Regions from separate parts of the Homo sapiens genome. Here region 1 is linked to region 2. The links come from fine-mapping of genetic effects on gene expression. Tissue or cell type: whole blood. Region 2 holds a variant in brackets; the other region holds the start of a gene. All regions are shown on one strand. Distances are from middle to middle.

Evidence for each region. PIP is the estimated chance that this variant, and not a neighbour inherited with it, causes the effect.
Region 1: it holds the start of NDUFA6-DT, and the variant in region 2 is fine-mapped to the expression of NDUFA6-DT in whole blood (TOPMed, PIP 0.93).

Annotation. Positions count from the first base shown.
Region 1 is chr22:42,086,323-42,094,411 of GRCh38, reverse strand. NDUFA6-DT (NDUFA6 divergent transcript) reads right to left here and starts at 3,479. Exons shown (of 5, transcript NR_034118.2): 1 at 3,231-3,479; 2 at 2,812-3,115; 3 at 2,180-2,293. NDUFA6 (NADH:ubiquinone oxidoreductase subunit A6) reads left to right here and starts at 3,640. Exons shown (of 3, transcript NM_002490.6): 1 at 3,640-3,806; 2 at 7,237-7,352. The coding sequence starts at 3,668.
Region 2 is chr22:42,289,945-42,298,044 of GRCh38, reverse strand. It overlaps a transcript of TCF20 not described here. Among named protein-coding and RNA genes, the nearest start is that of TCF20, 23 kb to the right of the region's middle. RefSeq lists enhancers at 1-284, 2,599-3,412. The variant G/C (reference allele first, on the strand shown) is at 4,885.

The sequences.
Region 1 (8,089 bases), 200 kb after region 2:
CTGGCCTTGGCCTCTCAAAATGCTGGGATTACAGGTGTGAGCCACCGTGACTGGCTGTGTCTGCCTTTTTCACTCTAGCCATTCTACTGGGTGAGAAATGGTATCTCACGAGGGTTTTGATTTTTATTTCCCTAATGGCTCATGATGTTGAATGTCTTTTCATGTACTTATTGGTCACCCGTATATCCTCTTTGGAGAAATGGTTATTCAAATACTTTACCCATTAAAATAAAAATTTCATCTTTAAGAGCAGTTTCGAGTTCACAGCAAAACTGAACAGAAAATACAGGGTTCCCCCACCCCACACACACTCATAGCCTCCCCCCACCAACAACATCAGGCACCAGAGGATATATTTGTTATAAGCAATGAAGCTACATTGACACACCAGTATCACCCATATCCCATAGTTTACATTAGGTTTCATTCTTGGTGTTGTACATCCTGTAGGGTTTGACAAATGTGTAATAACATGTATCCACCATTATAACATCCAGAGTAATTTCACTACCCTAAATATTCTCTGTGCACCACCTCTGTGCATTTCTCCCCACTCCCAGCCCCTGCCATCTTTTTTATTGTCTCCATAGTTTTGCCTTTTCCAGGATGTAATATAGTTGGAATCATACAGTATGTAGCTCTTTCAGATTGTCTTCTTTCACTTACTAATATGCATTTAAGGTTTCTCCATGCCTTTTCATGGCTTAATAGCTCATTTCTTTCTAGTGCTGAATATAGTCCATTGTCTGGATATACCAAGGTTTATTTATCCATTTACCTGCTAAAGGACATCTTGGTTGCTTTCAAGTTTTGGCAATTACAAATAAAGCTGCTGCTGGCCGGGAGCGGTGGCTCACGCCTGTAGTCCCAGAACTTTGGGAGGCCAAGGCGGGCAGATCACGAGGTCAGGAGATCGAGACCATCCTGGCTAACATGGTGAAACCCCGTCTCTACTTAAAATACAAAAAATTAGCTGGGCTTCGTGGCAGGCGCCTGTAGTCCCAGCTACTTGGAGGCTGAGGCAGGAGAATGGCGTGAACCCAGGAGGCAGAGCTTCCAGTGAGCCGAGATCGCGCCACTGCACTCCACCCTGGGTGACAGAGCGAGACTCCATCTCAAAAACAAAAACAAAAACAAAAGCTGCTGTAAACATCCATGTGCAGGTTTCTGTGTGGACATAAGTTTTCAGCTCATTTGGGTAAACACTAAGGAATGCAATGGCTGGATCTTCTGATGGGAGTATGTTTAGTTTTGTCAGAAAGCCAAACTGTCTTCCAAAGCTGCTGTACCATTTTGCGTTCCTACCAGTAAGGAGAGTTCCTGTTGCTTCACATCCTCACCAGCATTTGGTGTTGTCTCCCTTGCCCATTTCTAAACTTGGCTATTTGTCTTTTCATTACTGAGTTGTAAGAATTTTATGTATCCTAGATACAAGTCCCTTATGGAACATGTGATTTGCAAAAATTTTCTCCCAGTTTGTGGGTTGTTTAGAGGTCTTTTTTTTCTTTTCCTTTTGAGACAGGGTCTCACTCTGTCGCCCAGACTGGAGTCCAGCGGCGCAATCTTGGCTCACCGCAACCTCCACCTCGCGGGCTCAAGCGATCCTCCTGCCTCAGCCTCCCGAGTAGCTGAGATTACAGGTGCCCACCACCATGCCGGCTAATTTTTGTATTTTTAGTAGAGACGGGGGTTTCACCATGTTGGCCAGGCTGGTCTCGAACTCCTGACATCAGGTGATACACCTGCCTTGGCCTCCCAAAGTGTTGGGATTACAGGAGTGAGCCACTGCGCCCCATTTTTTTTTTGAATGTTGAACACAATGAATTTATCATGATAGTGGGTACTTCTGAAGGAGGCAGGGGTATACACAAGGTTAGAATCATACAGGTAGATATCATGGTATAGGTGCTGCGAGAGTCAGAAAACTGACTCTGGCACCAGCTGCCTGGGCTTCAACCCCAATGCTGTAAAGTAACTTAGTCTCTTTGTGCCTCAGTTTTCTCATCTATAAAATGAGTATATCAGCCGGGGGCAGTGGCTCACACCTGTAATCCCAGCACTTTGGGAGGCTGAGGTGGGTGGATCACCTGAAGTCAGGAGTTTGAGACCAGCCTGGCCAACATAGCAAAACCCCGTCTCTACTAAAATACAAGCATTAGCCATGCATGGTGGTGCGCACCTGTAATCCCAGCGATTCGGAAAGCTGAGGCAGGAGAATGGCTTGAACATGAGAGGCGGAGGTTGCAGTGAGCCGAGATTGCACCATTGCAGTCCAGCCTAGGTGAGTCTCACTCTGTCTCAAAAAAAAAAAAAAAAAAGGGTATATCAACACAATCTCACTGGTGTGTTGTGAAGCCTAGCCAAGTTAATGTACCTAGAGAACTAGAGAACAGTGGCTACTAAGGACATCTAAGGACACTTTATACAAACCTTAACTGTGTTACAACTTCTTAAGTCAGTACTGAGGTTCAAAAGCTTCCATTTTATTATTATGCTTTATAATTTATATATGTTACGTGCTTTCTTTTGTATAGCTCACTTGAATATATATATACATTTTAGAAGATAATAAGGAAGAAAAAAAGTATATCTGGTTTTTTAACCCTTCGAAATGGGAAAGTTTGGAGTAGATGCTCAGCCCCGGCCCCTGGCCCTTCCCCAATACTCACAGGCTCCTGTCAACTACACCTTCAGAAAAAGACGGAGCCTCTTAGGCAGCAGTCAGGCAGGTGGGGGCGATCTGTCAGGTGACCTAGACTCTGGGCCATCTCAGTTTCCTCACCTGTAAAATGGGGATGCTGAGGTACCTACCTGACCTATGAGAGCGGAGAACACTGAGATATCTTGCCCATGGCCTGCCCTGTGGTTAGCTGTCGTTTTTTCCTTGACACTTGTAGGCTCCTCTTCATGTTTACATAACCTCAGTGGGAAAACGCCAGCGAAGAGAGACACTCAGAATGGACGATCTAAAGTTCCTTCCAGCTTCCAAATTCTGGGCTGGTTTTCAGAGATCCAGGGCTCGGGATGCGAATGTCCCTGTCTACGATGGGGCTGCCGTTACAGCCTTCCTCCCGGGGCTCTGGAGACGCGCCAGCTCTTTGACACCTCTCCTGCGCTAAGGAAGAGTTGGTTTACAGAAAAGTAAGTATATCCTGGCCCTGCAGAAAGCCGCCAGGCGGCAGGACAAGCCCCACCGCAGCCCAGGCGCCATTATCTGCCTCAGCAGTTACCTCGGGGTCCCGCCACGAGGAGGTTCTTCAAGGCCTGCGCGCCCACGGACACTACCAAGGAGCGCGGCGGGCAGCCGGATAGCAGGACGCTGAGGGAAACCCCGCAGTCGCTCGGCGTCCCCGGCGCCAGCTCACGACCCAGCGACCTCCTGCGGCCCGAGCGTCCCCTGGCGGCAACGCCGGCTCGTTAGAGCGAGCGACAGATGGTGTAGTCCAAAGGCCAAGCGGCGTTTCTGTAGATGAGCATGCGCAGCACCCACCGTTCGCTCAGCCAGAGAGAGGCTTCCCAGCCAATCCGAGAGCCTCAGAGTCATCCTCCCGCCCACCCAGCATACAGGCGGGGCGTTCCTCCTTAGCCAATGGGAAAAGACATTCGCCCGCGGTCCGCACGCGCTGCTTGCAAAGGGGTGGGGTTGTGGAGTGGATGCTTTGGCAAGATGGCGGGGAGCGGCGTCCGCCAAGCTACTTCTACCGCCAGCACCTTCGTGAAGCCCATTTTCAGTCGGGACATGAACGAGGCCAAGCGGAGGGTGCGCGAGCTCTACCGCGCCTGGTATCGGGAGGTGCCGAACACTGGTGAGAGGTAGCGGCTTACGTGGGGACCCGGAGGCCGCCGCTCAAGGTCGTAGCCGGCCCGGCCGGGGTTTCTCATGGGCCCAGCTGAGGTCACCAACTTGGGCAGAGGCGACTGCGGGTGCTTCAGGGGAAGAGGGTCACCCGAGCCTACCATGGGCCGGACCTGGCGGCGGCGCGGTGGTCAGACCGGCCGTGCCTAGCATTCGTACGTGCTATCGGAGCTTTGGTCTCTTTTGTCCTTCGCAATTGGCGGGAGGACGATGACTGTCAGTGACACACTCACTTTGTGGGTGAGGCAGCGGAGGCACCGAGAGGTGAAGTGATGTGCCCAGGGCCCAGGCCGAGCCACTGTTGTACCCAGAACCCAAAGTCTAGAGTTGCAGAGTGTAATTATAGATGCCCGTTGGATTTTTTTGTTTGTGACAGAGTCTCGCTGTGTCGCTCAGGCTGGAGTGCAGTGGTGCGATCTCGGCTCACTGCAAGCTCCGCCTCCCGGATTCACGTCATTCTCCTGCCTCAGCCTCAGCCTCCCGAATAGCTGGGATTACAGGCGCCCGCCACCACGCCGGCCATTTTTTTTTGTATTTTTAGTAGAGACGGGATTTCACCGTGTTAGCCAGAATGGTCTCGATCTCCTGACCTCGTGATCCGCCCGTCTCGGCCTCCCAAAGTGCGAGAAAGAGGTGTTTTTGAGTGAGCTGGAGCACGGTGCCACTCCTCAGGGCTGTCGAGTCCCTGCTTGTGTGTGTGAAAAGGCGGTAGAATGTGGTGGTTAGGAGCACGGACTTTTCTTCAGGCGCTGCCCTCAACTAGCTGTGTGACCTTGGGCCAGTTATTTCATCTATTCCTCAGTTTCTTCATCTTTAAAATGGGAATAATAATTCCTTCTTCAGAAGGTTACTGTATTAAGTTAAAATATCTAGAGTGCTTAGAACAGGACTTGATGCATATTTAACTCATTAAATATTAGCTGCTGCCGTTGTTTTTGTTGTTATTTTTGTTATTTATAGGGCTTTCCTTAGCAGCAGCTTCCAAGCAGAACCCGGTTCTTTGACATATGAGAACTGTGTCTGCTCCACAGAGTCCCTGTCTTCAAGCTGACTTTTGGAAAAATTGCTACTGACCAGAACTTAAACCCACGCGATACTAGAGAAGGAGAAACTTGAGTGATCTGCTGGTTCAGGGACTGCAAATTCAGATGCCTTCAGGGGCAGGCAGATAAAAGATGTGTGTGGGGAGTGACTGTAGCAGTGTGTGTGTGTGTGTGTGTGTGTGTGTTTCGGGGTGGTGCATTCAAATTCAGCAGTTTGAAAACATAATGTTTGCCTGGCAGAATACTTCTAGGAGTACCCAGAACCCTCTCTGGTTGCAGGAGGAAGGTGCTGGGGGAAGGAGGACCACATTCAAAAAGGGTGGCTTGTGAAGGGTAAATCAGTGGCCAAGTAGAAGACAGAACCCAGGTATCCTGACTCTGAGGATCCAGCTCTTTCTAAACCGACCCCTCCCAAGACCTTCCCTCAAATTCTGTTTTGGGAAGAAAGTCCCAAAGTCAGAAGGGTCTTGAGAGGAGGAAAAGAAGGCAGAGGGCTACAGGAGCCTAGAAAGCAAGGGAAGAGGAGAGAAAAGAAGGGGTCAAGGAGTATGCATCCCTATGGGGAAGATCAGTGATCTGTAGCTGGCCAGTTACTCAAACCTGTGCCACACGGGTTTTATGGTATCCATCATCAGGACTCCAGCTGAGGAATCAAATCAAGGAAGGGGAATAAGTAATAGTGTTGAGAACTTAGAACAGCCTGAGCATTAATAAAAAACAAAAGTAAAATTTTAAGTATTTAATGAAAAAAACAGTAATGATAACTCACTTTTTTTTTTTTTTTTTTTTTTGAGACAGAGTCTCGCTCTTGTCTCCCAGGCTGGAGGGCAATGGCGCGATCTTGGCTCACTGCAACCTCCACCTCCCGGGTTCAAGTGATTTCCCCATGCCTCAGCCTCCCGAGTAGCTGGGATTATAGTTGCGTGCCACCACACCTGGCTAACTTTTGTATTTTTAGTAGAAACGGGGTTTCACCATGTTGGCCAGGCTGTCTTGAACTCCTGACCTCAGGTGATCCACCTGCCTTGGCCTCCCAAAGTGCTGGGATTACAGGCGTGAGCCACCGCGCCCAGCTAATAAAATAATAATTATTTTTTTTGAGACGGAGTCTCGCTCTGTCGCCCAGGCCGGACTGCGGACTGCAGTGGCGCAATCTCGGCTCACTGCAAGCTCCGCTTCCCGGGTTCACGCCATTCTCCTGCCTCAGCCTCCTGAGTAGCTGGGACTACAGGCGCCCGCCACCGCGCCCGGCTAATTTTTTGTATTTTTAGTAGAGACGGGGTTTCACCTTGTTAGCCAGGATGGTCTCGATCTCCTGACCTCATGATCCACCCGCCTCGGCCTCCCAAAGTGCTGGGATTACAGGCGTGAGCCACCGCGCCCAGCCTTTTTTTTTTTTTTTTTTTGAGACACAGTCTCACTCTGTCACCCAGGCTGGAATGCAGTGGCCCATCTCAGCTCACTGCACCCTCCACCTCCCGGGTTCAAGTGATTCTCCTGCCTCAGTCTCCCGAGTAGCTGGGATTACAGGCACCCACCACCATGCCCGGCTCATGTTTGTATTTTTAGTGGAGACGGGGTTTCACCATGTTGGCCAGGCTGGTCTTGAACTCCTGACCTCAGGTGATCCACCTGCCTTGGCCTCCCAAAGTGCTGGGATTACAGGCGTGAGCCACCGCGCCCAGCTAATAAAATAATTATTATTTTTTTTGAGACGGAGTCTCGCTCTGTCACCCAGGCTGGAGTGCAGTGGTGCGACCTCGGCTCACTGCAAGGTCCACCTCCCGGGTTCACACCATTCTCCTGCCTCAGCCTCCCGAGTAGCTGGAATTACAGGCACCCACCACCACACCCGGCTAATTTTTTGTATTTTTAGTAGAGACGGGGTTTCACTGTGTTAGCCAGGGTAGTCTCGATCTCCTGACCTCATGATCCGCCCACCTCGGCCTCCCAAAGTGCTGGGATTACAGGCGTGAGCCACCGCGCCCAGCCCATAAAATAATTTTTTAAAAAATACACTCAGGCACAAGAAAGTTAACTTACACGGGATCATATAGCTAACAAAAGCTGGGATTTGAACCCAGGTTGTTCAAACTCTTGAACAATGCTTTACTGCCTCTTCAAATTCAGTGGTCTTTTTCCCCAAACAAATAATAAGTTCCTTGAGAGCAAATACCATGAATCACATGTCTCATCCTCAAGCACCTAGCCTAGGGTCAGGCTAATTTTTTGGTGAAGAAATGAATGGGCGACCTGTATGTGTTCAATGAGTATCATTTGACTCTAGGTTTTATTTAACCATACAATTTCTACCCTGAGTCATGTTTTTCTCTCTAGTGCACCAATTCCAGCTGGACATCACTGTGAAAATGGGACGGGATAAAGTCCGAGAAATGTTTATGAAGAATGCCCATGTCACAGACCCCAGGGTGGTTGATCTTCTGGTCATTAAGGTAACTGACCCTCCCTGACCAATTTAAAAGATCAGCCAACTTGTCCACTACTTCTTAGTCTTTCCAAATGAACATTTTGTCTCCAAGTTTAGAAAGCAGCTACTGGTTCGGCAGTGATTATTGCTGTGTTTCAGAGAAATACTTGAACTTGGAGGTTATCATCTGGTTAAATAGATAAGATTCATCAAGGGAACATCCACTGGGACTTGCATTTTATAACCATAAAAAAAGATATAGGGAGGAAAGTTTGAACTCTTCTTGAACCTCATCCCTAGAAGTTACCACTTCATCTGAATGCCAGTTTACAGCTGGAAGAGGCAGTTAGGGTGGTTATGAGTCCTGTATAAATGGACTCAAATCCTGGGGCTGATTCTGTCCCCCTGGCCAGTCACGTTAGCATCAATGGGAGCTTCAGCATAGACCAGTCAGTAACAGAAGAAATGATAAGCAGAAACATAAGTTAAGCCAGTCAGGTTAGGTAGTCATGGGATAGGAGCCTGTTAACCTGTATGTTTCTCCTCTTGGTACCAGTTAACCACAGAGTTAAAGAATCTGAAAAGTGTCAGAAATGATTTACCCTGACCACCTCATTGTCCAGACATAGAAACTTTGCCCAGACAGAGTAGTTACTTGCCCAAGGTCATTCAACAAGTCCATGCTGAGCAGAGAATAGAATCCTGGCCTTCAGTGTCATATGCCTTCAACTTGACAACTTTGACTGATGACCTCTCTCCTCA
Region 2 (8,100 bases):
CCCATGGGTTTGCTTTGAGTCTATTGAGAAGACAGATGCTGAAAAGCCCCACCACTTTGTACAGATGTGAGCAGCTGGGCTGAGCGGTCACCTTTGCACCCCCAGGCCCAGCCCTGAAACCAGCACATGTTCATCCTTGCCTGCTCTGCATGGGTGCCAGAGAGGAGCCCTGCTGTGAACCCTCCATGTGTTCCTTCCACCCTGGGTCTCATCTCCTCACCATCAGCCAGGAATGCTGGGCCCTGCCTGACAGGGGCCCCAGCTGGTGGGGGGATGCGACCCGAGGCCTTCTGTTGTGGTTTGTGGGGCAAGAGGGGAGTCCACACACATTTGTCTGAATTGTGTGGCTCAAGATTCTCTCTGGCCAGTATTTCCTAAGTCTGCCTGGTCTGGGTTGGGAGAAGAGGTTATGAAGGGGAAGCTCCTGGGGGCTGAGCTCGAGGCTCAGGGATCATGGGCTTTCATGGCTGACCCTGTGAACTGCCCCTCCCCAGTGTCTGGCCCCTCCAGCCCAGCCATGGGGCTCACCCAGCTGTGCCCTTGGAGGGTGCTCAGGAGGCAGTGGGGGATGGGAGAAGGTTGGGAGGGGCTCTGATGAGTTCTTGTTGCTGGTAAAAAGAAGGCACAACCAGTGTCCTTAGATTTACCGTCTAATGCAAATGAGGACCCACTCCTCATTCTTGCCGCTCCATGAATATGACCAACCCTTAAGCCAGCTAGGGAGTCTGACCTCTGCTCAGGCCTGGCAGGGGACAGGAAGTAGCTCCTCACCTGTTTTTCTTTTTTCAGCCCCCTGGTCAGTTCTACAGCGTAGCCCTCTCTGATCATGCCCATTTTCCAGATGGGCAGCCTCCTTGCCCAAGGTCGCCCAGCTGGGCCATCCATTGTGGGTATGGGCACTGAGGCCTGCCTGAACCAGTAGTGCATAGGGGTTGGGACACAGGTTCTGGGGCCCAAGTTTAAACTGACTTCTCCAGTTTGCTGTGTGGTTCTGGGTGGGTTACTGCACCTCTCTGAACTCAGTTGCCACATCTGTAGAGTGGGTTTAACTATAGCACCTTCCTTTGGAGAGATGTCAGTGCCGGAGTGCATGGAGCACCTGGCATGGAGTGAGTGCTTGCTGAGTGTCAGCTGTAGTTGCTGCTGTTTTTACTGTTATTTGACTTGAAAATCTCCCCCTGCTCCTCGTGCTGCTTTCTCATTCGCGAAAAGCTGAGCTGAATAAATGGCGACGGGGCCTCCTGGGTCCCCCTGCAGCGTGATTACATCCCTGAGCCCTGCTTGGGGCTGGCATCAGCAGGGCCCCCTTGTGGCTCGGGTGGTGAGGAGAAACTTGGCCCTGTCGCACTGCCTGGCTGGAGCCCTGTTTGGGGGTGGGGGTCTCAGCCCTGCCTGGCCTGCCTCCCGGCTGACAGCTCGGGCACTGTGAGCTGGCTGCCAGCCAAGCTGCTTCCTCTCTGGCTGGCTGGCATCCCGGGCCCAATGCCAGGGGGCCGGCTGGTGGGCAGCAGCTCGAACGCCGCAGGGCTGTGATCCCGGCCAGGAGACTCCAGGCAGGGCTGGGTGTTGGGGCCTCCAACTGCCCCTCATGGCCCTTGGGGAGCCGGGCACAGCTGCACTGGCTCTCGGCACCACCCCCAAGTTGGCGCCGTTGCAGGTTTGCAAAGCAGCAGCAAAGAGTGCAGCCAGGGCAGTGGGAGCTGTTCACATCCTCAGGCCTGTCTCACAGGGTCAGACACTGAGCCAGTACTTGCTGAGTGTCCATGTGTCCAGGGCCTGTGCTGGGGGTCAAGGACACAGCATCCCGTTCGCTGAGGCCTGGCTCGGGGAGGCCAGGCTGCTGCTGAAGATGATGATGGTGGTCATGATGGTGATCCTGCACTGCCAAGCACTCACCTGCCAGGCAGGGGTCTAAGTCCTGACACATCTTCACTCGGTAGTCCTCACAAAACTCAGATGGGCTAAGGACTGTTCTTACCCCCATTTTACGGATGAGGAAACAGATCCATCTATAGCTAGAAAACGGGGAAGGCAAGATTGGAACCCCAGCTTGCTGGCTTCAAAGTCCATGCCCTCAGTGATGCCCAGGGTCTTGTGGAGGGCAGCCTGTACCATGTGGGAACTGGTCACGCTGTGTGGAAAGCCTGCCTGGAGGAGGAGGGGATGGGTATATGGGTTGGGGCTGAAGGCTGCACAGGATTTCTGCTGCTGAGGTGGGGAGTTCAAGGAAGGCTTCTCTGAGGAGGTGTCATTTAGGCTTTGGCCTGAAGGACATGAGCTGGTTGTATGAAAACATAAGGGAGTAGGCCGGGCGCGGTGGCTCACGCCTGTAATCCCAACACTTTGGGAGGCTGAGGTGGGTGGATCACTTGAGGTTAGGAGTTCGAGACTAGCCTCAACATGGAGAAACCCTGTCTCTACTAAAAATACAAAATTAGCCGGGCGTGGTGGTGCCTGCCTGTAATCCCAGCTCCTCAGGAGGCTGAGGCAGGAGAATTGCTTGAACCTGGGAGGCGGAGGTTGCAGTGAGCCGAGATTGTGCCATTGCACTCCAGCCCGGGCAACAAGAGCAAAACTCTGTCTCAAAAAAAAAAAAAAAAAAGAAAAGAAAACATAAGGGAGGAGCATCTCAGGGAGGGGGACAGCCAGGGCAGAGGCCCCAAGGCAGCAGCAGGCTTGCCAGGTGGGAAGGACCAGAAGGCAGCCCAGCGGTGGGGAGTGTGGAGTGAATGGGGCTGAAAGGGTAGGGCTGGCTCACAGAGGGTGGGGAGGCTGCAGCAAAAGAGGAGTTTAGGGTGGCTATGGTGCAGGGGCAGCTGTATGCTTCACCTCAAATGTTACTGTCTTCTCTCTCCATCAAGGAGGAAGGGCCCAGGCTGGGGTTAGGAGGCTTAGGGACCAGACTGTGTCACCCTCTCTCCTCCTGTGCCCTGCCCCCCACGCTGTCATCTCCCTCAGTGGCAGTGGGGGTTCATCACTGGGTCTTCAGGTCCCTTGCCCATGGCTGGTGGTGTTCCAGGTGGGCCCAACCAGGCGGCCCCTGCCTCTAGGCAGCGCGTAGGTTTCCTTGGGCAGCCTCAATCCTGCCAGCGCCAGCATGTCTCCCTGCACAGAAGCCATCAAGCACCTTTGGATCCTATCTGAGGGTCATCCCTGTCCCCCAGGGCCCTCCACCCAACCACAGCACCGGTGTGTATTCCCCTCTGCAGGCTGCCAGGCACTCCGCCTGCACCTGCTGCAGTTGGACAGTCCAGGCGTGGTGTGTGACCACAGCAAGCCACTGCCCACCTCTGAGCCTCATTGTCCTCATCTACAGAGTTGGGACATCAGCGTCTACTTTGTGGTTGGCTGTGAGGCCTAAATGAGATAATCTCCATCAAGTCCCTGCCAGGAGCCTAGCCTGGCCTCCATCAGTGGCCGCTGTTGAAAATGTGAGTCCTAAATCCTTGTGACCGCTGGGCCCAGCACCCTGGACAGCAACAGCCTGGCCCTGCCCTCTCCCGGAGCTGGGAGGGAGGGCCCTTTCCCAACCTGCTCGCCTGGGAGCACTGCCTGCCAGTGACTTCCCTGCCTCTGCCACGCCGACCCCCAGCAGCCTTCCCTGGCCTCCCTCCCGCTCCTGGAGTCTTTAGTCTTCAGCACAGTCTGGTAATTAAAAACCTTCAAGGGGAACTTTATTGAGTTAGCATTAGTTATTTTGTCAGGCTGGGAGAGCAAGAGAATTATCTGTCCTCCGGGAGAGGGGGCTAGGGCGGGGTCGCGGGCTGAGATTGGCAGGTGCCTGCCAGTGTAGTGCACGCAGGGTTTGTGCTCTATTAATGCACCGCACTGCAGGTGCAGTGGCAGGATGTGACCGGGGTGGAGCGGGCTGGCGGGTGTGTGTGTGGGGAGGGAGGATTCCCCACTGTGAGGCTGGCCCTGCGGGGATGTTCCCACTTCCCAGGCTCTTCCTGGCTCCTGTCCTAGGGCTCTATCACTTCCTGGCTTTCAAAACAAGCCCCTGTGAGAGCCCAAATGGAGACATGGGCAGCTGAGGGCGTTCTTTGAGACGGAGTCTCCCTTTGTGGCCCAGGGTGGAGTGCTGTGGTGCAGTTTTGCCTCACTGCAACCTCCGGCTCCAGGGTTCAAGCGATTCTCCTGCCTCAGCCTCCTGAGTAGCTGGGATTACAGGCTCATGCCACCACACCCGGCTAATTTTTGTAATGTTAGTAGAGACGGTGTTTCACCATGTTGGTCGGGCTGGTCTCAAACTCCTGACCTCGTGATCTGCCCGCCTTGGCCTCCCAAAGTGCTGGGATTACAGGCCTGAGCCACCGCGCCCAGCCTGAGGGCATTCTTTTCTTACTCCAAGCTGGGGGCTAAGCCTCTTGCCTCCCCAGGCCTGCCCTTAGGCTAGGGTTGGCCAGTGGGCTGGTTAAGGTGCCCCAGGCCTCCTCCCTACCCTCCCCTTCCCATAGCCTGAAGATACCCCCTTACAGAGTCAGGCAGGGACACCTGAGATTGGGAGCTCTGTGACCTTGGCTGAGCCCCCTCACCCCGCTGTCCTCAGACTCTCATTTGTGGAATGAGAACCACCCTCCCCAGGTAGTCATGCAGGATAAAGGAGGTCAAATGGGAATTCCCACCTCCAGGAAACCACCTGGTTTTATTCCCCTGGGTCTGTCTGAATGCCGAGCCCTAGGGAATGAGCTGACCTTTGCCCTTTTTGTTTGGCACCCACCTAGGGACAATACTCTGAATCCTGGCAATAACCTTGCAAGACAGGTGTATCCAGCTCCTGTTTCAGTTGAGCACACTGGGGCTGGAGCAGGGTGGCAGTTTGCTCAGAGTCAGCCAGGAGTGGAGAAGCTGGGTCTGACCTTGGATCTTCCCCCTATTCGAGGG[G/C]CTGGGGGGCCAACACTACACTATTGAATCTTTTAGGGAAGGTGCCAAGGAAGGACACTTGGCCTCCTCCTGGGCTTGGGCCTGGCCAGGAGGCCTCCTGCTGGGAGCTGGCCCCGGGGCTTTGTATCCTGCCCTGCCTTGCCCCAGAGCTGGGCCCCACTCCCTGGCCTTTCTGCCCTGCCTATGAGGCCCAGCTCCTGAAATTCAAACCCCGCCACTCCTGGTGGGCAGGACAGAGTGGGAGGGGGATGTGGGATCTAGTATCCAGCGCTGGGGACAGTGGAAGGGTCACACCAGCCATGTGTCTGTGCCGCTCAAGCTGAGACCCGGTCATTCAGTAGATTCTCCTGGGCCTGGGCTAGTGCTCGGCCGGCCCTGGAGGCGCAGAGGGGCTGGCTGGGAGCAGAGAGGCCTGAGAATCCAATCCGAGCCTTGTCTTCCTAGCCGTGGGGTCCTGTGTCCCAGGTGTGTGCTGCTTTGCAGCTCAAACAGGCCTCCTTGTCCTCCAAGTTCCTGCTTAAACACCCCCTCTTCTGGGATGCCTTCTGGGATTTATCCAGGCCACCGTGCTGCCCACTCTTCTGGCATCTCACAACCTACCTTGGTTACAGTTGACACGCAGGATGTTACCTCATTGAGGGCCAGGCTGAGCCCTTGTTATGTCCCTATCCTCAGCGTATGTGCTGGGTCCTAGCTGAGTCCCAGCTCTGCCTCGGATTCCTCATCTGTCAAGTGAGTCCAGGGCACAGAACCATGTTTGGGGACTGCAGGGCAGGATGAGGCCAGAAAGGGCTCCTTCTGTGGCATCCTTGACCTAGTGCACGTGGCCTGATTTTAGCACTGGGGCCTCAGCGGATCAGGACACGGAACACGCAGGCCCAACCCTGGGAACTGTAAGGTATTGCCTACTACCGCCGTGGGACCTGGGTGAGCTTTCTTCTTGCAAAATGGGGGTGCTGACCCTCGTCCATACCCTGTGAGACTATGGGCAGAGAGCCCAGCATGACAGGAGGGCCTATGGGTGCTGTGCTAAGTTTCTTTATCTAAGAAATGGGAGTGAGGCCCCATTAGTGCTCACGGGTCTCATACGAGGGGTGGTGTGTGAGAGGTGCCTGCTTTTACCCAGGTCAGAGACCTCAGGTCCACAGGGGCAGGAGACAATAGGTGCTGGCTGTTGTCAGGGAGGATCATGGAGCCAGGGGCCTGACCTTCCTCCCTCACATCTGTGGTTTCAACTTGGATGCTCTTAATCTGTGCTGGAAAGGAATTGGGTAGGGCCCCACCCCCTCACGCTAGCCCTTCTGCTTGCTTCTTTAGGCTGGGCTGCCTTTGTGTGTATCTGTGCTCTGGACCAGAATCAGGAGACCCTGGCTCAAGAGGCCCCTCCTAGGCATCTTGTGGCCCCAGGACTCCACCTTTGCCCAGCCTGGGCTAGGCCAGGCAGCCGGGTCAGGATCCACCTGGATCCACAGCAGTCCTGCCCAGCACCCCATCTGTTCCCCTCTCAGCCACACCCTTCTTGCTCTCCTCTGATTCCCCATGCAGGGGCTGCCTTTGCTGCATGCACCATCAGGAAAACTGCTCTCTTGGCAGATGACATCTCCCAGAGGCGGTCCCAGCACAGGCACTGCTGCTGCTGCCCCAGGGCTCATAGTCCAGACGGTCCAGCTGCTTTGCCGAGGGGCAGCCCTGAGGCCTATGACCTCCAGCGGGCTCAGGACACACATCTGTCTACCCTGGTCGAGACTCTAGTATGGAGATCCCCTTCCTTTGCCGCTCCACACACTGCCCTCTCCTCAGGGAATGCTTCCTCCTGGAAGCCCTGTCTAACCCCAAGGCTGTGGGGAGGGCCCCTCCCCTGGGGCTCAGGCTGGACCGCGGTCATTGGTTTACTTACTTTCCTTTCCACCAGACTGTGAGCTTCTTAAGTAACATCATGCATTTCTGGATCCCTGGCACACAGGAGGCACTCAATAAATGCTTGTGTTTGTTGGACAGTTTGTGGGGACTGGGAGGACCTTAAAATGTTCAGAGAAGAGGAGATGGAGTCCCAGAGACGGGAAGGATGGGGCATGGAGTGAGGCTCCACTGTCCAGAGGAGAGGACCCTAGGTTCCGATCCTGGCAGCCTGGGGACGGATCTGGCTGGACCCCTTACTTCACCTCTCCATGCCTCAGTTTCCTTATTTGTAAATGGGCATTTTCAAGCTGCCTCTCATGGTTGTACTGAGGTTGTACCGAGGTAAGGTAAGAGGGGGTGCTTTGCAAAGCCCCTGAAGATGTGAGTCCTCCCAGCACTGTTCTAGGGTCTTCAGTGGACCAGGATGGGCAGCAGGCCTGCCCCAAGGCCCCTGTGTGCTCTGGGAGGCTGACCTCGTCCTTGAATTGCCTTGAATTGTCCTTGAGGCCAGCATCTCATCCCAGCCTCATCCCCAGGCCTAGTGTTAGCCCAGCGACCAACGCTGAAGGGGCAGGCCCAGCGGTGTATGCTGCAGCCACAGCGAGTGGGCTCAGGGGCACGCGCTCCTTCTCCTCTGGTACCCTCCAGAAACCAGAAGCCTTTCCCTCCCAGCCTGCCCTTGGCTCTAATATCACAGGCCACACTGTGGGGAGAGGGTCCCCTGCCTGTGCTAAGCAAAGGTCAGGAGCAGAGGCCTCCCACGTGCCCCCAGCCTGCCCGCTCCATGGCCTGGTCACACCCACAGCTGACCCAGCCTCCCTTCACTGGGGTTTTTATATTTTGAGCAGATGAAAGATTCTGAACGATTCTCATTCCGTGTGTTTTGGCTGGGATTAGCTAGCCCCTGGCTGCCAGTTCCTCGGAGCTCTGCTGTGTTGAGAGGACATCAGACGGCCTGTGCTGGGCCGCTTCTCAGGGGCCCCGAGCCTCCTGCACATCCTAGGGCAGGGTACTGGGGGTCAGGACTGGGAGAAGAGACAGGATGAAGGGGGCAGGCCCTGCTGCAGGCTCTGGCCCACCTCTGGCCCTGGCCCCCAGCAAGGATTGGGGCCCAGCCCTGCCTCCTGCTGGCCCTTGTCCCCCTGGCTGACCCCCGCTCCCCAAGCAGCAGCCGGCGGTGCAGGGGGCGCATGCGTGCGGCGGGAGTGAGCCGGCTGTGGAGAATTAATATTCCTGGAACATCGCCCCGGCCGCCTGCACACGCCGAGGAGAATATTACGGCGATTAGCGGTGGGAGTTCGGCCTGCACGCAATATC